Linked DNA regions of Homo sapiens. The protein of the gene in region 3 binds, or shares a complex with, the protein of the main gene of each other region. Each region holds a gene or a part of one and is shown on either strand. Other genes may lie near its edges. The genes, in order: SF3B3, SMU1, IK and MFAP1.

Region 1 (7,031 bases), on a different chromosome or scaffold from region 3:
CTGCCCACTCCCCACCTCTTCATTTTTCAGACTTGGGACCTTCTGATTTTTCCTGAAGTCCCAAGGTTGTGGCTGAGGAAATCAGATGCAGGCTGCAGGCTCTTCTGAAACTGGTGGCAGGCCCTCTGGCAGACTCACCTCACCACCAACCTCACAGCGACAGAGACTGCCTGGTTATAAACTCTCCTCCAACCTCTGGGTGCAGAACAGAGCTGGGAGGTGGTGGTTCATGGTAGGTGCCCAGTAAACGTTTGTGGAAGAAATGAGCGTAGCAGCCTCTTCTAGTGGGTCAGCATGTCTCCTGATGGCTTAAACAGCTCCTGGCCAAGTGCAGTGGCTCACGCCTGTAATCCCAGCGCTTTGGGAGACCAAGGTGGGTGGATCACCTGAGGTCACGAGTTCGAAACCAGCCTGGCCAACATGGTGAAACCCCATCTCTACTAAAAATACAAAAATTAGCCAGGCATGGTGGTGCATGCCTGTAGTCCCAGCTACTTGGGAGGCTGAGGCAGGAGAATTGCTTGAACCCAGGAGGCGGAGGCTGTGGTGAGCCGAGATTGTGCCTCTGTACTCTAGCCTGGGCAACAGAGTAAGACTTCATCTCAAAAAAAAAAAAAAAAAAAAGAAAAAAAAGAAAAAGAAAAAGAAAAAAAAGAGAAACAACTCTTGGTTGTGCTGGTTCAGACTGGTGTGTAGCCTACACCTGCCCATTTCAGTTCACCTGAACTTCACAGGGTGTGTTGGGCTACCAGATCACTCAAATGTCAATCAACCATGGCCAAGCAGGTGTTTTAAGAGTCCCTATCTTGTCCTCGAGAGCCATCTATTCCTTTCCTCCGTTGTGACGTTTTTTGGACCAGGTTTGATTTCAGCAGCAGAGATGTTTCTTCTGAGCTCTACATATAGCCCTTGAAAATTAATTTTAAGGGTGTAATAAAATATTCACATACAATATTCCATATGCAAATGAGCAAGTGGATGACTCAAACACATGTCATTTTTACTTTGAATAGAAAACAGAATTTAGAGGCTGGGCATGGTGGCTCACGCCTGTAATCACAGCACTTTGGTAGGCTGAGCTAGGTGGACCACTTTAGGCCAGGAGTTCGAGACCACCCTGTCCAACATGGTAAAACCTTCTCTACTAAAAATACAAAAATTAGCTGGACGTGATGGCACATGCCTGTAGTTCCAGCTATTTGGGAAGCTAAGGAGGATCGCTTGAGCTCAGGAGATAGAGGTTGCAGTGGGCTGAGATCGCACCACAGCCCTCTAGCCTGGTCAAGAGAGAGAGATTCCATCTCTAATAAACAAACAAACAAAAAAACAAGAATTTATGACCAGGCGCAATGGCTCACACCTATAATCCCAGTGCTTTGGGAGGCCAAGGCAGGAAGATTTTTTGAGGTCAGGAGTTCGAGGCCAGCCTGGGCAACACAGGGAGACCCTGTCTCTACAAAAGTTTAAAAATTAGCTGAGTATGGTGGCACACATCTGTAGTCTCCCCTACTCTGGAGGCTGAGGTGGATTGCTCGAGCCCAGGAGTTCAAGCCTCAGTGAGCTATGATCACTCCACTGCACTCCCAGCTAGGCAAGAGAGAGAGACTGTCTCTAATAAAATTTTTTTTAAAAAATTAAAAAATAAAACAGAACTTAGGAATTAAAAAAAATTTGAAAGCCAGACTGATCCCATCTGAATGCCTTTCTGGCTTTCCTCTAACAAGCTCAAGAAAGGCAGCAGCGTGGGAACAGCACACATTCTGGGGACCAGCACTCTCCCTGTGAGACGAGCCTTTTCCAGCGCCGGCAGCTGTCTCACTAGCAATACATTTACACTAACCAAGAAAAGCAACATTCCAACTAGAACCCCCCTCCTCCAAAGGAATGCTATTCTTGGCAAGAGATCTTCCAAAGGAAACATCTGCAGAACCTCTGCCAGTAAGGTCAGGGGAAAGCTGAGGCAGCTAAAAACTTTTCAGTCCTAGGATCCAAGTCACAAGGGCTTAGCAATGGAACAGGATGGAAGCAAACCCAAGGGCAGATCCCTCTGTCTGAGTTCTGCAGCAGCCTCTGATGGGTTTTGCCAAAGCTGGAGAGAGGTCTCTATTTACCTGGTTGCTCAATCAAACCACAGGAGTCAATCAGGTCCCCTTAACAATTACACAGATGGGACTTGTCATTGAGTCACATCCAATCTAATTTTAAACTTTTGTAGGTCCTGCAGCAACAACTATGAAAATTCCTTTCCACATATTCAAGCCCAAATCCTTGTCCTAGCCCTTCCTCTTAACAGAGAACAAGCAAGCTGATGGGCAGACTTCCAGAGGAAGCTCGGTGGTGACAACTCCTGATTCCATAGATTAGGTTTTCCTTTCTTACATAACCCCCTACCTTCTGTACGGAGTGTATGTATTTTAGTCAAACTTGAGTTAGAAAAGAGGCGAGGAGCTGCTCAAGTATCTACGCTGAGTTCCTCAGATGACTGCATGTCAGTATCACACAATTTGATAGAATGGATTTAGGGCCACAGGAAAAAATGAGCCCTGAAATTAGGTTTTCAAAATCTAATTCAGAACTACTGTCTACTATGCAAATTCATGAGCTAAGTGAGAAAAAAACATGTTATTTAGGGATTCGATTCCTGGCAAAACCTGGGTCTCTCTTGACTGATCTAAAACCAAGTCATGATTCAAGAGATACTTAGTTCCAGGAGACAGTGTCACAGTGTCAGGAACCCTCTGTTCTGGGCTCTGAGAGGTTCAGATTGTATTCCACCATTCCTGATTCTAACCCAGTGCTCACCAGATCATTTGCTCAATTTAGATGGCTGAGCACATGCAGACGAAAGAAAGTTTTACATTTGTGAAGTATTGAGAACAGTGAGCTCACTTCTCCAGGTTCAAGGCGCAAGGACAGCCTGGAAGACGAGGGCTTCCCACACAACTAAACAGGAGGAATTCTCAGGGGTGGGCTGGAACATTTCTGGAACTGGGCCTCTTCCACCTAACAGGCTCTCATTATACCCTAAAGGCCCTCTGGAACCCACCTGAGATGGGTGCTGCAGACAGGCCCCACATATACACAGTTCTCAGGGGCAGGGCAGTATCTAGGTTCTTCTGTACTGACCCTTCCTATGGTCCTATGGAGCCAAAGATCGCTTTAGGTGCTGTATCAGTAAAAGGGGCATCTGTTAAGACTCCCCAGCTAGAATTCATGCTAAAATCCCCATACTAACATCCTCAGAGTAGAAGAGGAGGAAGAATCAGCCACCCTTCCTCAATACCCAGTGGGAAGAGGGGTGGGTATACACATGGTTATTGAGGTCATGTTTCATCAGCACAGCAAAAAGAACCAGGAAAAAACAAAGAAACCACCACAGACCTGGGGGTGGGGAGCCACAGAGTGCCGCAAGTCCAAGTCGGTATCTGGAAGGAAGGAGTCTACTCAGTTCTTCCTGCTCTAACTTGGGTTCAAACCTCCCACCTACATCCTCATCTCCAGAACAAGACACATGGATGCCAGTCACCTTAAAAACTAGGTTTCTATTTCTGGTTAGATTCTAGAGCAGTGGAACTCAGGAGTGATACTATACCCTACCCAGTCCCACCACAGCCTGCCTCCTTCCTCCCACAGAGATAACATTGTACAAAACTGTATTTACAAGAAAACCAATTAAAAATTAAGGGTGTGTGCAAAAGTAGACAGGAGAGTCAAGACATATCAATGCAGGGATGGCTTTGGGGAATGGGGGACTCAGGTTCTACACTGGAACCTGGGGTCATGTATCATGTACCAGGTGGGGAGAAGTGTAGCAAATCTCAGTGCCAATTTGAGGGGAAGCCAGTCATTCCAGGAGAAGAGCTGAGGGGAAAGAGCTGTTGACTTTCATAATGCAGTCTTAATTATCCAGTCACCCTCCTGCCACATGGCAGAAGCCAGGTGGCAGTGATGGTGGTGGGGGAAACAAAACACACAGTCTCTGGCAAGCCCCACCGGGAAAGGAGGGCTCAGAAGGCGTAGCGGGTCCGGATATCCTCGAGTTTCTTGGACACTTCGGGTGGGGTTCGGTCCAGTTCTTCAGAGACGTTCTTTTGTTTGTTGGGTTCCATGGAATTGAACTGCTCACAGAGGTCTCCATCAATCACATTCTAAGATATGGAGAAAGCAGAAAGAAAAAAAATGGTGAGATGCCCAAAGAAAATGGCACATGCTAAAGCAGCACTTGTAGGGAAAGCTGTTTTTATTTTTTAGTTTTTGAGACAGGGTCTCACCCTATCATCCGGGTTGCAGTGCAGTGGGATAATCTTAGCTCACTGCACTCTCAAAATCTGGGGCTCAGCCTCCCGATTGGCTGGGACCACAAATGTGTGCCACCACGCCCAGACCGGGAAAACTTTTTATTCTCCACTCGATACTTGAACCCCACTTGTAGATCCAGGAACACTATCTTAAGTTGACTCTTGGTACTCAGAGTTCAGATTGGCAGAAGCAGGTGAAGCCTTTGCTCTGGCTGTGGTCTGCCCTGAGGGGAGCACCCTCCCTGGTACTATTCCCATCAATCCACTCCCTGTGCTGCTCCTTTCTCAGATCTCCCTTTTCAGCTCAGATTCCCCCAACCTACCTTCACAGGGAAGTAGTAGGAGCGAAAGCTGAGGTGGTCCCGCCCACAGAGAGGGGGATGTTCAGACCGCAGGTGCATTTCCACATGCTGGAAGAAGTCATGGTCCTGGCAGAAGAAACAAAAAATCTGTCACTGAGAAGTGATTTCAACTAGTCTAGAGTTTCCACAAGCACAACGAACAGACAAGCCATTCATTTTTACTACACAAACACACGGGAAATATCTAATCACTTTCTGATAATCACAGGTTTTTCTGCTACAACACGATAGTTAAACCCCAAAAGGAGACCACATGTTGTCTGCAGTGCAAGAGAGAATGCCACACATAAAGAATGGTTTGTGAGGTCAGATTCCTGATCCCAGCTTCCTTGGCTGGAATAAAACATGCCAAACTCTGGCAAACCTAGAGTTGATTCCATATGGCAGTGTGTGCCCCAGGAGGGATCATCCCATCAATCCTGGCAATCCTAGTCTGTGGAGTCCAGTTCTAAAGCTCTGGGCTCAGGCTAACCTTGTAAACTCGCATCAGACTGAAGCAAACCCTGGGACACTATAAAAACAAACGGCCTGGCCGGGCGCGGGTGGCTCACGCCTGTAATCCCAGCACTTTGGGAGGCTGAGGCAGGCGGATCACAAGGTCAAGAGATCGAGACCACCCTGGCTAACACGGTGAAACCCCATCTCTATTAAAAATACAAAAAATTAGCCGGGCATGGTGGCGGGCGCCTGTATTCCCAGCTACTTGGGAGGCTGAGGCAGGAGAATGGCGTGAACCTGGGAGGTGGAGTTTGCAATGAGCTGAGATTGCGCCACTGCACTCCAGCCCGGGTAACAGTGAGACTCCGTCGCAAAAAAAAAAAAAAAAACCAAATGGCCTTCCCTGGGTGCGGGAGAATCAAGATTCCTATCTCCCCAAGTACTTCTGTCACTTTATAATTCCCAGAACATTATTAATTATATGTGGGGACAAATGAATTTGACCTCTTAGGTAGATCCAGCACCAAGAAACAACCTTAAAAGTCAAGGCCAGAGTAATGTGGGCGCTCTCACCTCATGGGACGTGAATGGCACAAGGATGCCAATTCCTCCAGACAAGGTGGTATAGACAAGTGATTCTGAGCCTCCAGGGATCAGCGTGGTCTTCTGCAAGGACAGCACCGTCTCCCCGACATGGTAGTTCATGATCACCTCTGCCTGTGAGTCACAAACAGACTAGTGACTGTGTGCACCCTCAGGAGCCTCCCTGGACTCCCAAGGGCAAGCAGTGCTCCCTAAGGCACATTTCATCATCTATTAACATCCAAAAATTATTATAGAGGCCAACGTGGGAGGATTGCTTGAGCCCAGGATTTCAAGACCAGCCTGGGCAACACAGTGAGGTCTCGTATACCCATACCCACAAAATCTGCCAGGTTTGGTGGCATGTACTATAGTCTCAGCTACTCAGGAGGCTGAGTGGGAAGGATCACTTGAGCCCAGGAGGTGGAAGCTGCAGTGATCTGTGATTGTACCACCACACTCCAGCCCGGGCGACTGAGTGAGACCTTGTCTCAAAAACAAACAATAAATCCAAAAATTATTAAACCCTACAAATATTTTAAAATTCTCACATTTACTTAAAGCTTAATGCCTCATAAAACATGCTAAAGTTACTGTTCATCATTTCTTACGATAAGAATCATTTTGTTAAATTTATCAAGCTTGCCATAAAAAAGGAAAACACAAAGAAAATTATAGAAAACAGCAATCACTAGGCTTGTCTTCTAAAATAGATTTGCCCGAAAGTCCAGAGATGCTCTATTAAAGCAGCACATGCCTACAGGAGAAAGTAAAGCCCAGGACACACCTCAGAGCAGAGGACTGGGAATGGACTCTCTCTAAGAAACTCGCTACTCTCCAAGGAGATTTTTTGCAGATTGGTAAGAAAGGACTGTGGACGGACAGCACTCAGCACAGTCGTGTGCACTATGAATAATTCACCAAAGGCAATTTCTTCAGTGAGGGCAACAGGAAAAGTGCTAAGCAGTGTTCTCCCTGGGGCCCATTCTGCAATCTTACCTTCTGGGAGGCCCCATTGAGCAAGCCACGGTCCCACAGGGCTTTGTTTCCTGTAGGATCCTCATCTACTTCATCATTGGTGTTAGGTGGGAGCCTCACCTACAAGGAAGTGACACAAGTCACACTGCTGGGGCCCGGACCTGCTCACCTGAGTCACCAAGCAACAGGTCTGGCCAGGTCTTTGCAAGTCAGCCACAGGGGCACTGCCTAGACAGAGGCCTGAGCCCACGTGTCCTGCACCTGCTCTGGTGGGCAGGAGCTGTGTCTGAGGAGCAAGAAACTCAAAAGAATCGACCCATGAGCAAGAGTTTAACACAGCTAAGGGTAAAACCAAAACCACACAACATAGATA
Region 2 (7,144 bases), on a different chromosome or scaffold from region 3:
TATAGCCTGCAACACAGTATCCCAATGGCCACTGTTAATGTCAGCCACAAAACTCTCAATGCTGTCCACAGTATTCAGAGACACAGTAGTCTCCTCCTGCAAGGTGGCTAACGCCCGATGTAAACTGTTCTCCTTCAAGTACTGCATAATAAGGCGGATCACACTGAAAGAAAACAAATCGTTCAGCTCAGGGATTCTCACTCACCAGAGGTCAAAAATAAAGCCTATCAAGCTCCTACTCAATCATCTTCCTTTCACTACTATTTCTTTATCATGTGAGTAAAATTTTCCAAAATCACAGAATCTAAATTATAAGGGGACCCCCCCTAACCATAGAGACAGAACTGGGGTTCAAGGAAAGGAAATCATTTGCCTAATGTCTCAGTCAGCTAGAAAGGGAGTTGGTGTCAAGGTGACTATCTTATTTCCTAATCCAGAGCCTAGTTTCCTATTCATTCTTGTAATTATATTGTAGCACACTTCACTGAAATACTTTAAATGACTAGACTAGTTATTTATACAAAATAATCTAAATGAGGTTGGGCATGCTGGCTCATGACTGTAATCTCAGTAATTTGGGAGGCTGAGGCAGGAGGATTGGCTGGAAACCAGGAGGTTTGAGACCAGATCAGGCAGCTGTGAGACCCCATCTCTACAAATTTTTTTTTAAATTAGCCAAACATGGTGGCATGTGCCTGTAGTCCCAGCTACTTGGGATGTTGATGTGGGAGGATCCCTTGAGCCCATGAGTTCAAGACCAGCATGGGCAACATAAGAAGACCCCTTCTCTACACACACACACACACAAAAAAAAAAATTAGCTAGGCATGATAGTGTGTGCTTGTGGTCCCAGCTACCTGGGAAGCTGGGGTGGGAGGATTGCTTGTATCCATAAGGTTGAGGCTGCAGTGAGCCGTGATCATGCCACTGCACTCTAGCCTGGGAAAGAGAGCAAGACCTTGTCTCAAAAAAATAAATAAAATAAAACCTATGAGGTAAGTTTACTTTTATCCCCAATTTACAGATGAGGATTTGATCAGATAATAGAGATAATAAGTGGAAAAATCAGGACTCAAACTGGCAGTGTGGCTCTAGAGCATGTATTCCTGAGGAGAAAGCAAACATCCTCTTTTTTTTTTTTTTTTTTGAGAAATGGTCACTTGCATCGCTCAGGCTGGACAGAATAGTGGCGTGATTGTGGCTGACTGCAGCCTGGGCCTCCTGGGATCAGGTGATCCTCTCACCTCAGCCTCCCGAGTAGCTGAGACCACAGGCATGCACCACCACACTGGCTAATTGTTGTATTTTTTGTAGAGACGTGGTTTTGCCATGTTGACCATGCTGGTCTCAAACTTCTGGGCTCAAGTGATCCATCCACCTCAGCTTCCCAAAGTGTTGAGATGACAGGTGTGAGCCACCGCACCTGGCCCCTCTTCTTAAAAACAACTATAGGCCGGCCGCGGTGGCTCACGCCTGTAATCTCACCACTTTGGAAGGCCGAGGCGGGCAGATCACAAGGTCAGGAGATCGAGACCATCCTGGCTAACACGGTGAAACCCCGTCTCTACTAAAAATACAAAAAAATTAGCCGGGCATGGTGGTGGGCGCCTGTAGTCCCAGCTACTCGGGAGGCTGAGGCAGGAGAATGGCGTGAACGTGGGAGGCGGTGCTTGCAGTGAGCGGAGATCGCGCCACTGCATTCCAGCCTGGGTGACAGAGTGAGACTCCGTCTCAAAAAAAAAAAAGGGAACTGATTGCTGCTACCTGCAGTAGTCTTTTTCTCTCATGGCCCCTTTATGAGGTATGCAGGTATCCAGACTTAGACCCCTGTTATTCTGCTATGATACTATCTTCCTTAGCACATGTCCGTTGACTTCCATTTTACACTCCCAAAATAAGTCATCTCTCTCCTCAAACAGCTCACATTTGACATAGCCAAAATCAAATTCCCTACCTTCAAACAGAAATGAATACATAAAGAGCTAGAAGCTTTGAAGATAGTCTGGGATTTGAATCAAAGTTATGTGACCTTGGACAAGTAGGTTAACATCATTTCAGTATTTGCTGAATGCATAAACCTCCCTTCCTCCTATGAAAAGTCTCCAAAAAAGGTCCTCTCCCTCCCTTACACTCAGACACAATTTTTATGTCTGTTAATTTAATTATTATTAAGTGTTGGCAAGGACAGGTGGAGGATGGAGTTCTGGAAAAGCACACTAAGGTCTTCTTTAGTCACTAATTCTCATCCCCTATTCCTTGAAAATTTTTCTTTCTAGCCCAGTCTCCAGTCTGTCTCTCCCCAGACAACCCAAAATTCCGTGCCAGATCGGGCCTGATAGTTGTTCATTCATTCCAAAAGCTAGTTGTTCATTCATTCCAAAAGCAATTAACTCTTCCTCTAAGGTATGCTAGACACTGAGACCACAAGGAAAAGGAGCTCCTAGGCACCGACAAAGGCTAGTTTGGGGTGAGGTTATCAAACAGTGACAATACTGAGTGATAAACGCTAGGCAGAGAAAAGCAAAGGGGCCGTATAAGCAGAGACAACGAATCACATTGCATAAGCTGGACAGGGAGAGAAGCAAGGCTTAAAGAGACCTATCCCCTTGCGCAGATAATTAGACTGGAGTCCAGAGTGGATCCTTAATTTGGTCAATCACAGCGCGCCAGCAGTCGGCCAAGGACAGAACTTAGGTCTGCAAGGTGTGTTTTCCCCACCCGTGCCACCTCCCTCGAGGTTTTGGGCTTCACGTCTGAGAGCTGCTACTTTCCTGTGGGCCCACCTCCGAGGTAGCGAGATCCAAGATGCTTCTTTGGGGGCAAGGAAATGGCCCTCCACTCCCTGGCCTCTCGGATGCCTTCTCCCGAGTACCCTCCGCCCCACACCCTTAACCTCCAGGCCCCCGGCAAGGCGCGAACATCCCCACCGCAGGACTCACTCCGAAGATTCGATTTCGATCGACATAGCCGTATCTCTCCGGGAGCAGGCCCCAGCTCTCCCTCAAGGCCAGTCGCGCAACACACCAACGACACCTCCGGCGGACACCTAACGTCACTTCCGCTTGGGTCGGCGTCTGGCTCCCGCTCTGGAGATAGAGTGAACGAAGAGTAGGGGCGAGGTTCGCGTAGGGGCGGAGCCCTCAGGGGCTGTCAGAGGGCGGAGTTTATGCCCCTGCCCCAGAGAAATACGCATCAGGAGGAAGACTGTTTAAAAGCAGGCCGGAGCCGGGTGCGGTGGCTCACGCTTGTAATCCCAACACTTTGGAAGGCCGAGGCGGGCGATCACCTGAGGTCGTGAGTTCGAGACCAGCCTGACCAACATGGAGAAACCCCCGTCTCTACTAAAAATACAAAATTAGCCGGGCGTAGTGGCGCATGCCTGTAATCCCTACTCGGGAGCCTGAGGCAGGAGAATCGCTTGAACCCAGGAGGCGGAGGTTGCGGTGAGCCGAGATCGCGCCATTGCACCCCAGCATGGAAAACAAGAGCGCAACTCCGTCTCAAAAAAAAAAAAAAAAAAAAAAGAAAGATAGAAAAGAAAAAGAAAAAAAGCACCGGGCGCCATACAGCTCACAAATGTACTGAAAAAGAAAAGCGCTGGGGCGGAGCGCGGTGGCTCGCGCCTGTACTCCCAGCGCGCGAGTTCGAGACCAGCCTGGGCAACATGGTGAAGCCCCGTCTCTACTAAAAATACAAAAAATTAGCCGGGCGTGGTGGCGGGGGCGCCTGTAATCTCAGCTACTCGGGAGTCTGTGGCAGGAGAATCGTTTCACCTCTGGAGGTGGATGCGGTGAGCCGAGATCACACCATTGCACTCCAGCCTGGGCAAGGAGAGCAAAATTCCGTCTCAAAAGAAGAAAAGAAAAGTAGTGGTGATAAGATTGTAGTAAGAAAAGCAAAGAAAAGAAAGAAGAAAAGAAAGAAAAGAAAAGAAAGAAAAGAAAGAGCACTGGTTTGGAAAGATTGCTTTTTTTTTGAGACGGAATCTCGCACTGTCGCCCGGGCTGAAGAGCACAATGGCGCGATCTCGGCTCACTGCAAACTCTGCCTCCCGGGTTCAGGAGATTCTCTTGCCTCAGCCTCCGGAGTAGCTGGGATTACAGGTTTCTTGCCATCACGCCAGGCTAATTTTTTGTATTTTTAGTAGAGATGGGATTTCACTATGTTGGTCAGGCTGTTCTCGAACTCCTGACCTCGTGATCCGCCCGCCTCGGTCTCCCAAAGTGCTGGGATTACAGGCGTGAGTCACTGCGCCCAGCCAATGTTGCTTTCGTTTGATGTAATTAGTTGATTAGATTTAAGATGAGGCTGAATATGCAATACCTGATGGGATATTAATACATTCAAAACCAACATAACACTAGCCAAAATTTATAGGAAGAGTTAATTGAGGATTTTGGTTGGTTGGTTGGTTTTGCGTTTTTTTGAATCAAGGACTCGCTTTGTTGCCCATGCTGGAGTGCAGTGTCTCGATCGTGGCACACTGCAGCCTCGACCCCTCCAGCTCAAGCAATCCTCCCACCTCAGCCACCCAAAGTGCTGGGATTACTGGCATGAGCCACCACGCCCTGTCACGGGACTTTAGGTCAAACACATTATTACATTTGTAGTGACAAATGAAATGTAGAGATATCAGTGAACTTCATACATAAAACCTATTTTTAAATATTTTATTGCTGTTGTATATAAATTGTAAAAATTATTTGCAGCACAGTAATAATAAATCTGGCCAGGCGTGGTGGCTCACGCCTGTAATCTCAGCACTTTGGGAGGCTGAGGCGGGTGGATCACCTGAGTTCAGGAGTTGGAGACCAGCCTGGCCAACATGGTGAAACCCCGTCTCTACTAAAAATAAGAAAATTTGCCAGGCAGATAGGTGTGCATCTGTAATCCCAGCTACTCGGGAGACTGAGGCAGGAGAATCCCTTGAACCCGGGAGGCAGAGGTTGCAGTGAGGAGAGATCGAACCACTGCACTCCACCCTGGGTGACCGAGTGACCAAAAAATAATAAATAAATAAATAAATAAAATAAATCTGTGTTCCGAAATTACATATTGAAATGATGTATTTGTAGATTTCCTGATGGCTTTCAGTCTTATCTGATTCTGTGCCTAAAGGTCTGCCATACAACTTGTCCATAACCTCTTAAATACTGCTTCTTTTGTCAAATCATCCTCTATTTCCTATCAATTCTTGAAGGACATGGTCTCCAAGGTTTCAAATGTTTTAGAGTCTCCATGCTTGCCTTGACATGTAGTGAGATATCAACATGGGTTATATGGTTTATGAGATACTCCTTCACTATTCTATCCCATAACAGCACAAAATTATTATAACTTCTTCCTTGAAAAGAAGACCCAGCTCATCGCAACAATAGCATATGTCCTCATTTTCTCTACCTAGTACTTGTCATGTTACTCTTAAATTCAGGTTACTTCTCTATTTTGTTTATACAAATAAATCTTCTCTATGATTACTTAACACCAGGTTTTATTCTAATATCCACCACACCTCTGCTTTCATTTTGAATGGAATGGCTTCTCTTCTTATGACTCCTATTACATCCAAGCTTGTTCATTATTTATAGATGTGAGCATCTTATTGCTTCATTATGTCTTTTGTAGTAACACCCTAGGATTTTGATATTGAACTACATATTACTCTATTTTATAACAAATTAATTTATTTTTATTTTTCCTATATATTTAGCATTATATTGATTTTTTCATTATCTGCGTAAGTAGATTTTTCTTTCTTTTTTAAGACAGAGTCTCACTCTGTTGCCTAGGCTGGAGTGCAGTGGCACCATCTCAGCTCACTGCAACCTCTGCCTCCTGGGTTCCAGTGATTCTTCTGCCTCAGCTTCCCAAGTAGCTGTGATTACAGGCACGCACCACCATGCCCAGCAAATTTTTGTATTTTTAGTAGAGACGGGTTTCGCCATGTTGGCCAGGCTGGTCTCGAACACCTGACCTCAAGTGATCCGCCCGCCTTGGCCTCCCAATGTGTAAGTAGATTATATTACTTATGAATTTCAGAACACTAAAAGGGATGTTACAAGAGATTTGGAGGTCCTTGAGCCTAATAGTATTGAGAACATGTTAAAGAGATGCCTATTAGTCATTGCTCCAAAATAATAACTCCAATCCCTTAATACTTTTCTTACTCTCCTTTTTTAACCTTGGAAAGATCTTTTAGAAAATAATATATTTTGTGATAAAGAAACATTTACATAAGTTCAACAATTCTTTTGGTTTCACTTCAGTTTCCTTTTATTCAGTCAATTACAGGTACAATTAAATTGATTAATTTTTCTCTAAAAAATAGCACATATTGATTGGCCAGGTGTGGTGGCTCACACCTATAATCCCTGTACTTTGGGAAGCCAAGGTGGGAAAATTGCTTGAGACCAGGAGCTCAAGACAAGGCTGGACAACATAGCAAGAGACCCCTTCTTCACAGAAAAATTAGCCTGGCATGGTGGCACACGCCCGTAGTTCCAGCAACTTGGGAGGCTGAGGCGGGAGGATTGGCTTGAGCCCAGGAGTTTGAGGCTGCAGTGAGCCATGATCGCACCACTGCGCTCCAGCCTGGGAGACAAAGTGAGACCCTGTCTCTAAAGAAAATAATAATAATAATAAAATTAAAATAGGCTAGGCATGGTGGCTCACGCCTGTAATCCCAGCACTTTGGGAGGCCAAGGTGGGTGGATCATCTGAGGTCAGGAGTTCGAGACCAGCCTGGCCAACATAGTGAAACCCCCCCATCTCTACCAAAAATACAAAAATTAGCTGGGCATGGTGGCACATGCCTGTAATCCCAGCTACTCAGGAGGCTAAGGGAAGAGATTCGCTTGAGCCCGGAAGGCGGAGGTTGGCCTGAGACGAGATTGCACCATTGCACTTTAGCCTGGGTGACACAGTGAGACTCCGTCTCAAAAAATAAAAATAAAAATAAAAAAGAAAGAAAGAAAACGTGGGGCAGTGGAGGGTGGGGAGTGTAAACTATACTCTGTCTGCATCACATGCTGCTTGACATAATCCCTGGTGCCAAGTAGCCTGTTTCAAGTCAGAACTTGTTATTTGCTGCTGTGCCCGTGGTTTATGCATTCACGTCAATGTGATCATGGGCACCATTCTTGAG
Region 3 (5,183 bases):
GCCAGATTCTGTCTCCTTAACCTACCTAAGAAGCAGTGGTCAGGTCTGAAGCATGAGGGATGGAGAGTGGGTAGCTTATGTCCTATTTATTTATTTTTTTTAAAAGAGATTTTTTGGTGAAAACCAGAAAACCTAGACAGATTCTAAAAAGGCTCTAATACTTGACCGACATTTTATTTTATTTTATTTATTTATTTTTTGAGACGGAGTCTCGCTCTGTCACCCAGGCTGGAGTACAGTGGTGCGATGTCTGCTCACTGCAACCTCTGCCTCCCGGGGTCAAGCGATTCTTCTGCCTCAGCCTCCCAAGTAGGCACTATAGGCACTATAGGCACGCATCACCACGCCTGGCTAATTTTTGTATTTTCAGTAGAGATGGGGTTTCACTGTATTGGCCTGGCTGGCCTCGAACTCCTGACCTTATGATGTGCCCACCTCGGCCTCCCAAAGTGCTGGGATTACAGGCATGAGCCACTCTTCCTGGCCTTATTTTATTATTTTTATTTATTTATTTATTTTGAGACGAGTCTCGTTTTGTCGCCCAGGCTGGAGTGCAGTGATGCCATCTCGGCTCACTGCAACCTCTGCCTCCTGGGTTTAAGCAATTCTCTTGCCTCAGCCTCCTGAGTAGCTGGGATTACAGGCACCTGCCATCACACCCGGCTAATTTTTTTGTACTTTTAGTAGAGATGGGGTTTCACCATGTTAGCCAGGCTGGTCTCAAACTCCTGACCTCAAGTGATCCGCCCGCCTTGGCCTCCCGAAGTGCTGGGATTACAGGCGTGAGCCACCGCACCCAGCCTTGACCCACGTTTTAAACAGAAGATGTTTAAAAGGGCATTAAGAGCTGGAGAGGATGGTGAAGTTCAGTGGAAATTAACTGAGGAGTATGTTCCTGACTCCTCTCTTTAAATTTCAGGGAAGCTGGAAGAGAAGAAACCTCCTGAGGCTGACATGAAGTATGTATCCTAGCCCCTGGCATCTGATCAGAGGGAGGGGGTCTGTACATTTCTTGTGTCTGGCATTTTGGGGAGGTGCTGACATGAGAATCTGGAGAAATGGTCAGGGGGAGTGAAGGTGTATGTGTGAATTTGGCCAGCTAGTGATCTCCATTTTCCCAGTATTTTTGAAGACATTGGGGATTACGTACCCTCCACAACCAAGACACCTCGGGACAAGGAGCGGGAGAGATATCGGGAACGGGAGCGTGATCGGGAAAGAGACAGAGACCGTGACCGAGAGCGAGAGCGAGAACGAGATCGGGAACGAGAGCGAGAGCGGGACCGAGAGAGAGAAGAGGAAAAGAAGAGACACAGCTACTTTGAGAAGCCAAAAGTAGATGATGAGGTGAGATGTGGGCCCTTAGTACCAGGTGATGGAGTTGCCCCTCTCTGGAAATGTGAGCAAGGTTGGGTAAGGAATTGTTTCAAACTTGGGGGAGGGATGAGTAGGAATCTCTCATGGTAACACTAACTTCACATTTTGTGTTCTTTCCAGCCCATGGACGTTGACAAAGGTGAGTTGTACACACAGCATCTCACAGTTGCTCTAGCAGTCCTGCTTTCCCCTGGTAGGGCTCAGAGCTGGCAACGGTGGGATTGGGGGACCTCCTGGTTCTGGGTTCTTGTAAGAACTGTGTCTTGCTTTATTGAATAGGTGGAGTTCCCTCCACCTTCCTGGGCCATGGCAGGGCATATTTGCTCTTAGATATAATTCCTGTGGCCCTGGGGTTCTGAGGAGGTGAGGTAGAGGTCAAGTATGGAATGTTCTGGATACCCTACCCTCATCTCAACCAGAGTGACTCATTAATTGGAGTTTGTTTAAAACTTTGTTAGACAAAAGGGTTCTATGCCTTAAAAATGTTTTTTAAGTGTGTTGTGGGGAGGAGGTTGTGAGAGCCTCAGTTCAAGGTCTGGGCTGAGTTCTCTTTTCTCCTAGGACCTGGGTCTACCAAGGAGTTGATCAAGTCCATCAATGAAAAGTTTGCTGGGTCTGCTGGCTGGGAAGGCACAGAATCATATCCTTTATTTTAATACGTTCCTGGGTTCCAGAGAACTGGTCTCTTTACTCCAACCCCCCCTGCCTCCCTGCTCCCTCCTACCCTGCCCCTCTCCTTCCCTTTTACGCTGAATTTTGACAGAATGAAACCATCCCTTGTTCCTTCCCAGAGCACCCATAACAGCTCACAGCCCACTCAGAATTTTCATGTTGGGGCTTCTAGCCCTTGGCCCCCTCCTGGCTGAAGCTTTACAGCAATAGGTAGAATCCTGTGTAGTGTTTTCTTTAACATAGCATATGCTGAAGAAGCCAGAAGACAAAAAGCAGCTGGGAGATTTCTTTGGCATGTCCAACAGTTATGCAGAGTGCTACCCAGCCACGTATGTGAAACCTGGTTAAGGAAGGGAGGCTGGGATGATTGGGAAACAAGTTGGGGGTGAAATGGAAATTTGATTCGCTAAGTCCCAGGGCTACTTCTTTTTTTTTTTTTTTTTTTTTTGGAGACAGAGTCTCACTCTGTCACCCAGGCTGGAATGCAATGGTATAATCTCTGCTCGCTGCAATCTCCATCTCCCGGGTTCAAGCGATTCTCCTGCCTCACCCTCCCAAGTAGCTGGGATTATAGGCATGCATCACCACACCTGGCTAGTTTTTGTATTTTTAGTAGAGATGAGGTTTCACCATGTTGGTGAGGCTGGTCTTGAACTCCTGACCTCAGGTAATCTGCCCTCCTCAGCCTCCAAAAGTGCGGGGATTACAGGAGTGAGCCACTGCGCCTGGCCCAAGGCTACTTCTTACTTGGATGAACTATTTTATTAGGCTCTAAGTGGGAGGTCTAGGGGGTGGTCATTCCTATGCAGATAACCTCTTAGTCGGGTAGGTTTCCAGATGAAGCATAGGGTCAGGGTATGCAACATCTGTTTAACTCTTGCTTCTCCTTAGGATGGATGACATGGCTGTGGATAGTGATGAGGAGGTGGATTATAGCAAAATGGACCAGGTATGTAGTTAGAAGGATGGTGGGCGCCTTTGGGCAGTTATTATTTGTTTTACATGTATCTCCTTCCCCACTCCTAAAAAATCTATCTCATTTACTGGGCCCCACCCTCCTTTAGCTGCAGCAGTAGAAACAGCAGCATTGAGGGTCATGAGCAGCTTAACTATTTCAGAGTCTTTGCACAAGATCAAATGACATAGGGTCAAAAATCTATTTTTTACTTCCTATAGCAAAGTGCCAGGCTTTGATTCCCATGGTAGGCAGTAAGCAAGCATCAATGCATAAGTAGAAAGGGCAGAAAAAATTGCAGTCTTTGGAAAATAACTAAATTTTATTCTAGCCAGGATTGAAGTTTTCCTCTAAGTCTTAAGCAAAATTAAAAAGAAAAAAACCACTAATGCCACTAATAGTGAAGAAGTCTGTGTTCTTCCCCTGAGTTCACTGTATTGAAATAGCATGGTTTAATCTTGGAGCCTTGTTTAATCCTGCCTCTACTGTTTATTAGTTTTGTGAACTTGCCAAGTTCTTTCACTGTTTATGCCTCAGTTTCCTCATCAGGAAAATGGAGAGAAATATAGTTCCCTCTTCATAGATTTTATGAGAATTAAGTGAGATATGCATTTAGTGTACAGAATAATGCCTGTCACATAGTAAGTATGTAATAAGCATTTATTATTACTTATCAGGGTATGATTTATGAATTGTGGAACCTGGGATTATGGGAGAGTCTGGCTTCAATCAAGGGCTGAAATTCCATTTCCACTGACATCTCTTCCTTCCCCATCCCCCGATTCTGTCCTGCAACAGGGTAACAAGAAGGGGCCCTTAGGCCGTTGGGACTTTGATACCCAGGAAGAATACAGCGAGTATATGAACAACAAAGAAGCTTTGCCCAAGTGAGTCGGTACTGAATATGGGCAGGGTGTGAGGAGGGGTGTGGGGATTTGGTGGAATAGTGCATATAAGGTTAGAGGGTGTGGTCTGGCTGAGATGTTCCCCACTAAGTTCTTTGCCCACAGGACTCTGGGAAAACCTCGCCACTGCTATGCAATCTCTGATGCATTCTTTCCCAACTGCTTTTTTCAGGGCTGCATTCCAGTATGGTATCAAAATGTCTGAAGGGCGGAAAACCAGGCGCTTCAAGGAAACCAATGACAAAGCAGAGCTTGATCGCCAGTGGAAGAAGATTAGTGCAGTAAGTAGGATGGCCCCTTGGGTGGGAGGGTTTCAGCTGGGAGAAGACATTAGCCTGCAGATTCAGGAACAGGCAAGGGGCTGGAGAGCCATGGAAATGAGAGGTCAGCCTTGGGCCTCAGGTGAGCTTAGATGGGCAGCTTGGTGATAGACTATCCTGTTGTTTTTGCAGATCATTGAGAAGAGGAAGAAGATGGAAGCTGATGGGTGAGCGGCATTATTCTTCCTCTGTGGGACTGGTGGGAATTGCTTAGTGTATTGATCTTATACTGACCCATTTCTCCTTCCATTGCAGGGTTGAAGTCAAAAGACCAAAATACTAATCACTAGTTACAACCAGAGATGCTCCACAAGGATATGCTCCCCACTGTTTTCTTTCTACAATTTCCAAAGGTTGCAAGATGTTTTTTTGTGGATGAATATAAAATTTTATTGTGTAATTACTTGGTTCCATTAAAATTGGTTAACTTGCTATTTTCTTTGTTGAGCATGTCCCCTCCAGTGCCCTTGAAGCACCAAGAACACTAATTCCACTGGTTGTGTAAAATCACATGCAGAAAGTCATCAGTCCTTTCCTGAGCTGTGGTTCTAGATTCCTAGACAGTAAGGATGCTCTCTAGCCAGTGTGCCCAGTAGAGAAGAGAATAATGATCCTCACTGATGGGCAAGAGGTGGATAGAGGAATGTAAGTATGATTGGTCTCAAATGTCAGACTCATTCCGGCCCATCTTCAGGCCTAGTCCCTGGGGAAAGATTTCCTGGGGATTGCTGTCAGCCTGATGGGCTGCTAATCTGATCTCCAGGCTATGAAGGACTGGGCTCTGGATGAAGGCATCTAATGAAAATCACTTATGGGTGGGAACCAAAACCTTTTATGAGTTTATGTACTATGAGCTTTATTAATGTTGAGTACAAATCACTGTCTCCTTGGCTAAAGGTGTAACCTTAGGGAAGTGCTTTGGGTTTAGAGCTGATATAGTGTGGCCCTGCAGGT
Region 4 (7,042 bases), on a different chromosome or scaffold from region 3:
AGACACAAAAATTCCAGATGGATTAAAGACGCAACTATGAAAAACTTATCTTAAATATTTACATTCCCTACTGGACTGTAAGCTAACTTATAATCTGTCTTGTATAAGTGTGTATTCAACTCAATTTAATATATACAAACACTCAGAAGATAGAAAACCTTTACAATATGAGTATCTGTGATCTCAGTGCAGGGAAGGATTATTTCTTAAACGATATACAAAAAAAAGCTAAAACCATACAAGATAAAGTTGATAAATCTGATAATACTAAAACTAGAAACGTGTGTAAGAGAAGACTCCATAATTAAAAGACAAGCCAAAAAATGGGGAAACGTATACTATAGATTTGGAATATATAAAAACAAAGCAAACAGAAAGTGGGTAACTGACAGAAACAGGTAATTCATGGAAAAGAAAATCTAGAGAGCTTATTAGACACATGAACAAGATGCCCAGCATCGGCCGGACGCAGTAGCTCTATGGTGAGCCGAGATGGAGCCATTGCACTCCAGCTTGGTCAACAAGAGTGAAACTCTTTCTCAAAAAAAAAAAAAAAAAAAGCCCAGCATCACTAGTAATCAGGGGAATGCAAATTAGAATAATGAGATACCATTTCACACCTGTTAGATTGGGCAAAAAATGTAAAAATCTGATACAACCAAGTGTGTAGATGATGAATATATGGGAAATAAAGCTCTTAGGTTCTCAAAGTTTGTTTTCTTTTTTTTCTTTGAGACAGAGTCTTGCTCTGTTGGCCAGGCTGGAGTGCAGTGGCATGATCTTGGCTCCATGAAACCTCCACCTGCCGGGTTCAAGTGATTCTCCTGCCTCAGCCTTCCAAACAGCTGGGATTACAGGCGTGCGCCATCACACCCGGCTAATTTTTGTATTTTTAGTAGAGACGGGGTTTCACCATGTTGGCCAGGCTGGTCTCAAACTCCTGACCTCAGGTGATCCACCCATCTCGGCCTCCCAAAGTGCTGGGATTACAGGCCTGAGGCATCACGCCCAGCCTTTGTTTTAACAGACAGGGTCTTGATCTGTTGCTTAGGTTGGAGTGTAATGGCACAATCATAGCTCATTGCATCTTTGAACTTTCGAGCATAAGTGATCCTCCTGCTTTGGCTTCCCCCAAGTAGCAGGAGCACATCACTACATCCCGCTAATTTTTAATTATTATTATTATTATTATTTTTGAGACGAAGTCTTGCTCTTGTCCCCCAGGCTGGAGTGCAATGGTGCGATCTCGGCTCACTGCAACCTCTGCCCCCTGAGTTCAAGTGATTCTCCTGCCTCAGCCTACCGAGTAGCTGGGATTACAGGCGCCTGCCACCACACCTGGCTAATTTTTGTATTTTTAGTAGAGACGGTTTCACCACGTTGGCCAGGTTGGTCTCGAACTCTTGACCTCAGGTGATCCACCAGCCTCAGCCTCCCAAAGTGCTGGGATTACAGGCGTGAGCCACCGCGCCGGGCCCTAATTTTTATTTTTGCAGAGATTGGCGGGGGTGGGGGGTGGTCTCGCTATGTTGCCCAAGCTGGTCTTGAACTCCTGGCCTCAAGCGATCCTCCTGCCTCAGCCTCCCGAAGTGCTGAGATTACAGGTGTAAGCCACTGTGCTCCACAAATTCTTATGTTCTTATAACTTACTTTGGGGAGCAATTGGCAACAGGTACTAAATAAAGCTAGTATTGGCTAGAGAATGACAATTGCAGAACTTTCTTTTTTTTTTTTTGAGAGAGTGTCTCACACTGTGGCCCAGGCTGGAGTGCAATGGTGCGATCTCTGCTCACTGCGACCTCCACCTCCCGGGTTCAAGCAATTCTCCTGCCTCAGATTCCCAAGTAGCTGGGATTACAGGTACCCACCACCATGCATGGCTAATTTTTTGTATTTTTAGTAGAGACGGGGTTTCGCCATGATCGCCAGGCTGTCTTGAACTCCTGACCTCAGGTGTTCAGCCCGCCTCAGCCTCCCAAAGTGCTGGGTTTATGGGCATAAGACACCGTGCCTGGCCGCAGCACTTTTTTGAACAAGGGGACAACCACCTGCCTCTCAGTAGGGAATAAAGTGTGGATTACAGTTTATTTTATACAATGGAATTCATAAGCTGTTAAGATGAATGAATTAGATGTATAGGGATCCAAAGATAATTCTCAAAAGCCATGTTGAGACTAGATACGGCGGCATCTACTCGGGAGGCTGAGGCAGGAGGACAGCCTGAGCCCCAGGAATTCGAGTCCAGCCTGGGCAGCATAAGCAGACTTCTATGGACAGCAAAAGAGGGACTGTATCCCGCACAATGCCCTGCCAACAGGCATTCTCTATCTATCTATCTAGTCTGATATTATATACATATTCTGATATATACTTAAGTTCCTAATTATTAGATTAATAATATACTTAAGTTCCTAAGTAATTACACTAATAATACATAAATTCTTGTAATTATATGTAATTAGTGATATTATATTCTAATCATAATATATATTAGACTAATACATATATTCTAGCATATATATATTAGACATATATATTCTGATATATACTTAAGTTCCTAATGTTTTTATATGTGTAATATATATTATATATATGTAACATTAGTCTAAGGAATTTGTGGAGGCTAACAGAAGAGAGGTGCTTGCTGAATACGAGAGCAGGCCACAGGAACAAGATCGGATGCAAGTGGGTGGGGGTGGAAAGATCGAAGAATCTGGCAGCCAGATCTCAAGAGCTGGCGGGGTTGGAGTGGTCTGTCCGGGAGAGGTCTGGAGGTTGCTGGGGCCGGAAGGGGTTAAAATTCGACTGGGAAGAGGGTGTTAGCACCGTACCTTTCTCATTGCGAACTGGGACGGCCCCAGCCGTAGACTGAATGGGCGGTTGCTTCATGAGAGCGCTTGGGACCGACATGTTGATGGCAGCGACGGTGATTCCCGAAACTTGACTAATTCCAAACAGTGAACACCAGCAACGTCAACGAAGAGAAGAAATTCCTTCCACCTGAGTCCGCGAACACAGCTGCGCGACTGATAGAGAAACTACTTACGGCTGAGCTAGATAAACCGGAAATACGTGACGAGAGGATTGTGGGATGGTGGACGACGTTTGGGCGCCCACAGCTAGGAAGTCGAGTCGGTTTCTGCGCATGCTCATTGGCTGCCCGCATGTCCTCTACGTCGCAGAATTTGGAAGCAGCTTTTGGCGGGAAATTTTGCTTCCTTTGGGCTTTGCTGTTAGGACTCTGCGGTGAGGAAGGTTCGAATGAAAGATTTTACGTGTTAGCTTGGTTTGAAGCCAAGAACGGTATAGTGAATAAGAAACTCAGGCGACAGTGAGTTACTGTTTGAATGGCTTGTTGAAAGCTCAGAAGAAGTAGAGTTTGATGGAATAAAAATCTTGCCAGTAGTATCCGATTAGCTTAGTTCATAAGGCCAGGGTGGGCTGTGGTGCGGTATTTGGTTTCACAGGGCAGGTGGTGCTGATTTAGGCCAGTGACCGAAAAAAAAAAAAAAAAAACTCCCGAGGTGCCTGGGACATTGCCCACCTGAAATCCCAAAACTCCACTTTTTTAGGCTTTCAGGTTTTTCCAGTTTCTGGAAACTACCTATTAAAATACATTCCTGGCTAGAAAATGTTTGTATTTAAATATCTAAGTAATTATTATTCTTTTGAGACTGTCTTTTTCTGTCACCCAGGCTGGAGTGCAGTGGCTCGATCTCAGCTCACTGCAGTCTCCACCTCCCGGGTTTAAGCAATTCTCGTGCCTCAGCCTTCTGATTAGCTGGGATTACAGGCGCCTGCCACCACTCCCTGCTGATTTTTGTATTTTTAGTAGAGACGAGGTTTCACCATGTTGGCCAGGCTTAAGTGATCCGCCCACTCCGGCCTCCCACAGTGCTGAGTGTTGGCGTGGGCCACCACTCCCGGCTAATTTTTGTATTTTTAGTAGAGGCAGGGTTTCGCCATGTTGCCCAGGCTGGTCTTGAACTCCTGACCTCAGATGATCCACCTACCTCGGCCTCCCCAAAGTGCTGGGATTACAGAGGTGAGCCACCGCACCCGGCCTATTTAAGAACTCTTTAAGGACTTACAGGATAATAACAGAAGCAGCTCCAATTTACAAGCTGAGTCGTGTTAAAAAATATATATAATATTGGCTAATTGGAAAGTCAGGACACATTTCACAGTAGAAAGGACTTTATAACTGCGGGGGAGACAAGGGACAGTAGGAACAAAGTCTTAAAGTCCAGAAACAGTATGTTTTATACAGGACACCATGAAAAGTTTGGTTTTATCAGTAATTTTTGAGTCATGAGGGGCCTTGAAGTTGCTATTAATATGATTAACCCAAATTACTTCACCTGTGTTCTACAATTGGGCCTTGAGTGGGAGAAGAAATGAAACTGGACAAATCTCAGGCAAGGAACAGTGTGGGACCCAACTAAGCAACCAAGGAAACAGTTTTGGGCTAGAAGGAACCTTAAAGAGAATAGCCAGAATCTTATTTTATTATTTATAGAAGAGGGTCTTGCTCTGTCGCTCAGGCTGGAGTTCCGCGCAATCACGGCTCACTGTGGCCTCATCCTTCTAGGTTCAAGCCATTTTCCCACCCCTGCCTTCTGAGTAGCTGGGACTACAGACGTACAACACCACGCTGGGCTAATTTTTGTATTTTTTATAGAGATGGGGTCTCACTATGTTGCCCAGGCTGGTTTGGAACTCCTGGGCCCAAGTGATCCACTCCTCTCGGCCTCTCAAAGTGTTGGGATTACAGGCGTTAGCCACCGCTCCCGGCCTGTTAGTGTTTTTCAAAGCGACATCCCAGTACCACCAGAATCAAAATCACCAGTCAAAGGTAAAAATGTCAGTTCAGCCCCAGGACATCCCTAAAGAATTTGAGTCTAGGGCTTTAAGACAGCATTTTTTTTTTTTTGAGACGGAGTCTCACTCTTGTTGCCCAGACTGGAGTGCAATGGCGCGATCTCAGCTCACTGCAACCTCTGCCCCCTGGGTTCAAGCAATTCTGCCTCAGCCTCCTGAGTAACTGGGATTACAGGCACGCGCCACCAAGCCCGGCTAATTTTTGTAATTTTAGTAGAGACGGGGTTTCGTCATGTTGGCCAGGCTGGTCTCAAACTCCTGACCTCAGGTGATCCGCCGCCTCAGCCTCCCAAAGTGCTTAGGATTACAGGCGGGAGCCACCGCGCCTGGCCAAGGCGGCCTTCTTAAGAAGCGCGCGTAAAACCCCAACTTCCTGCTCTGGCGCTGCGGCCGCTGGGGATCTGAGTGGGCTCCGCCCCGCCTCGGACCCGCCCCTCCCGGCCTCCCGCCGCAATCTTGGCGGGAAGGCGCCGGCCGCTAAGAAGCCGAAAGATGTCCAGGTCGGGCGCGGCGGCTGAGAAGGCGGACTCCAGACAGCGACCCCAGATGAAGGTGAGAAACGGACTGGTGCTTCCAAGGTGTGCTCCTGCCTCGGTTTTTGTGAGGGTTATGCGGGACACAGGCCCAGGAGGTCGAGGGCACCTGGCACCGGGGGTAGGCGGGGGATCCCTGCCCTTAGGCCTTCAGCTTTGACGAAAGGTTCTTATCAATAACCCGAGAAATAGTGGGAGAGTCACATCTGGGATTCCCTTTCTTCAACCTTCTGCGTTTTCTTCTGCCACAGTTATGATCGGCTTCACACTCTTTAAATAATTCCAGACAATCCGCAGCTGACAGTTGGGGTATTTGCCCCAGTCACAAATGCTAGTCATTATTATTATTGGTCTGGAAAACTTATGGGCAAATGTGCCCAGTAAGTGAATTCTACTGAGGTTAAGGTTAGTGAATTACATATCTAGGATTTTGGAGGGGAAAATAAGTTTTCTTACGAAGGGTGTCAATTTGGATTTATTTATTTTTTTGAGCTTAAGTCTCACTCTGTTGCCCAGGCTGGAGGGCAGTGGTGTGATCTCGGCTCACTGCAACCTCCGTCTCCCGGGTTCAAGTGATTCTTCTGCCTCAGCCTCCTGAGTAGCTGGGACTACAGGCGTGTGCCACTATGCCCAGCTAATTTTTGTATTTTTAGTAGAGACAGGTGGTTTCATTATGTTAGCCAGGATGGTCTCGATCTCCTGACCTCGCGATCTGCCCGATTGGGCCTCCCAAAGTGCTGGGATTACAGGCGTGAGCCACTGCACCTGGCCTCAATTTGGATTTATATTGTCTTTGGGAAATGGGAATTATTAGATCTGTTAGGGATCCTGTAAGAAAAGGCACAGGACTTGGAGTTCTAATATTCTGTTTTCTTTTATTGATCTGAATAGGTAAATGAATATAAAGAAAATCAAAACATCGCTTATGTGTCTCTGAGACCAGCACAGACTACAGTTTTAATAAAAACAGCTAAGGTCTATCTTGCCCCCTTTTCACTCAGTAATTACCAGCTAGACCAGCTTATGTGCCCCAAATCCCTATCAGAAAAGAATTCTAACAATGAAGTGGCGTGTAAGAAGACTAAAATAAAGAAAACTTGCAGAAGGATTATACCTCCAAAGATGAAAAACACATCTTCCAAGGCAGAATCCACGCTGCAAAATTCATCCTCAGCTGTTCATACTGAAAGTAACAAGCTACAACCCAAGAGAACGGCAGATGCGATGAATCTCAGTGTTGATGTGGAAAGTAGTCAGGATGGAGACAGTGATGAAGATACCACACCATCCCTGGTAAGAACTTAATTAGTAGCTTGTTCTGGTTTCTCTTTTTTGAAATTTGAAGTTCTGATAAATCGAAGTTTTTCGAGGATCTCTCTGGTACAAACAAGTTATTTCATCATCTAATGTAAGTATAAATGTAATAATACATTTTTATTATTTTTAAGGTTTAACAAATAACTTCCTTGGGTTATTTTTGCTCTTGCTGTTGATGTGTCAATGAAAGGATTGACTTAATCTTTACTCTGCTTCCTTTTTTCTTTCTCTAAACTAACTGCATATATTTTTGGGTTTAGTCATACTTTATGGTGCCTTTCTCACCTTTACATGTTTATGTACAGTATATC

The links.
Region 1: IK (region 3) and SF3B3 share a complex: the UniProt entries of both Homo sapiens proteins name them as parts of the spliceosome B complex.
Region 2: IK (region 3) and SMU1 share a complex: the UniProt entries of both Homo sapiens proteins name them as parts of the spliceosome B complex.
Region 4: IK (region 3) and MFAP1 share a complex: the UniProt entries of both Homo sapiens proteins name them as parts of the spliceosome B complex.

The regions. Positions count from the first base shown.
Region 1 is NC_000016.10:70,568,790-70,575,820, reverse strand, and holds part of SF3B3 (splicing factor 3B subunit 3), read right to left. Parts: intron 6,779-7,031; coding exon 6,680-6,778; intron 5,816-6,679; coding exon 5,672-5,815; intron 4,727-5,671; coding exon 4,622-4,726; intron 4,149-4,621; coding exon 4,008-4,148; 3' UTR 1-4,007. UniProt on the Homo sapiens protein: Component of the 17S U2 SnRNP complex of the spliceosome, a large ribonucleoprotein complex that removes introns from transcribed pre-mRNAs.
Region 2 is NC_000009.12:33,073,644-33,080,787, forward strand, and holds the start of SMU1 (WD40 repeat-containing protein SMU1), read right to left. Parts: upstream 3,032-7,144; 5' UTR 2,966-3,031; coding exon 2,940-2,965; intron 164-2,939; coding exon 1-163. UniProt on the Homo sapiens protein: Involved in pre-mRNA splicing as a component of the spliceosome. Regulates alternative splicing of the HSPG2 pre-mRNA. Required for normal accumulation of IK.
Region 3 is NC_000005.10:140,657,818-140,663,000, forward strand, and holds the end of IK (protein Red), read left to right. Parts: intron 1-919; coding exon 920-959; intron 960-1,121; coding exon 1,122-1,347; intron 1,348-1,497; coding exon 1,498-1,516; intron 1,517-1,938; coding exon 1,939-2,017; intron 2,018-2,297; coding exon 2,298-2,378; intron 2,379-2,940; coding exon 2,941-2,998; intron 2,999-3,802; coding exon 3,803-3,891; intron 3,892-4,081; coding exon 4,082-4,190; intron 4,191-4,361; coding exon 4,362-4,396; intron 4,397-4,484; coding exon 4,485-4,512; 3' UTR 4,513-4,663; downstream 4,664-5,183. UniProt on the Homo sapiens protein: Involved in pre-mRNA splicing as a component of the spliceosome. Auxiliary spliceosomal protein that regulates selection of alternative splice sites in a small set of target pre-mRNA species. Required for normal mitotic cell cycle progression.
Region 4 is NC_000015.10:43,821,660-43,828,701, forward strand, and holds the start of MFAP1 (microfibrillar-associated protein 1), read right to left. Parts: upstream 3,032-7,042; 5' UTR 2,911-3,031; coding exon 2,832-2,910; intron 1-2,831. Other genes in the region: WDR76 (WD repeat-containing protein 76), read left to right, coding at 5,374-5,433, 6,306-6,707. UniProt on the Homo sapiens protein: Involved in pre-mRNA splicing as a component of the spliceosome.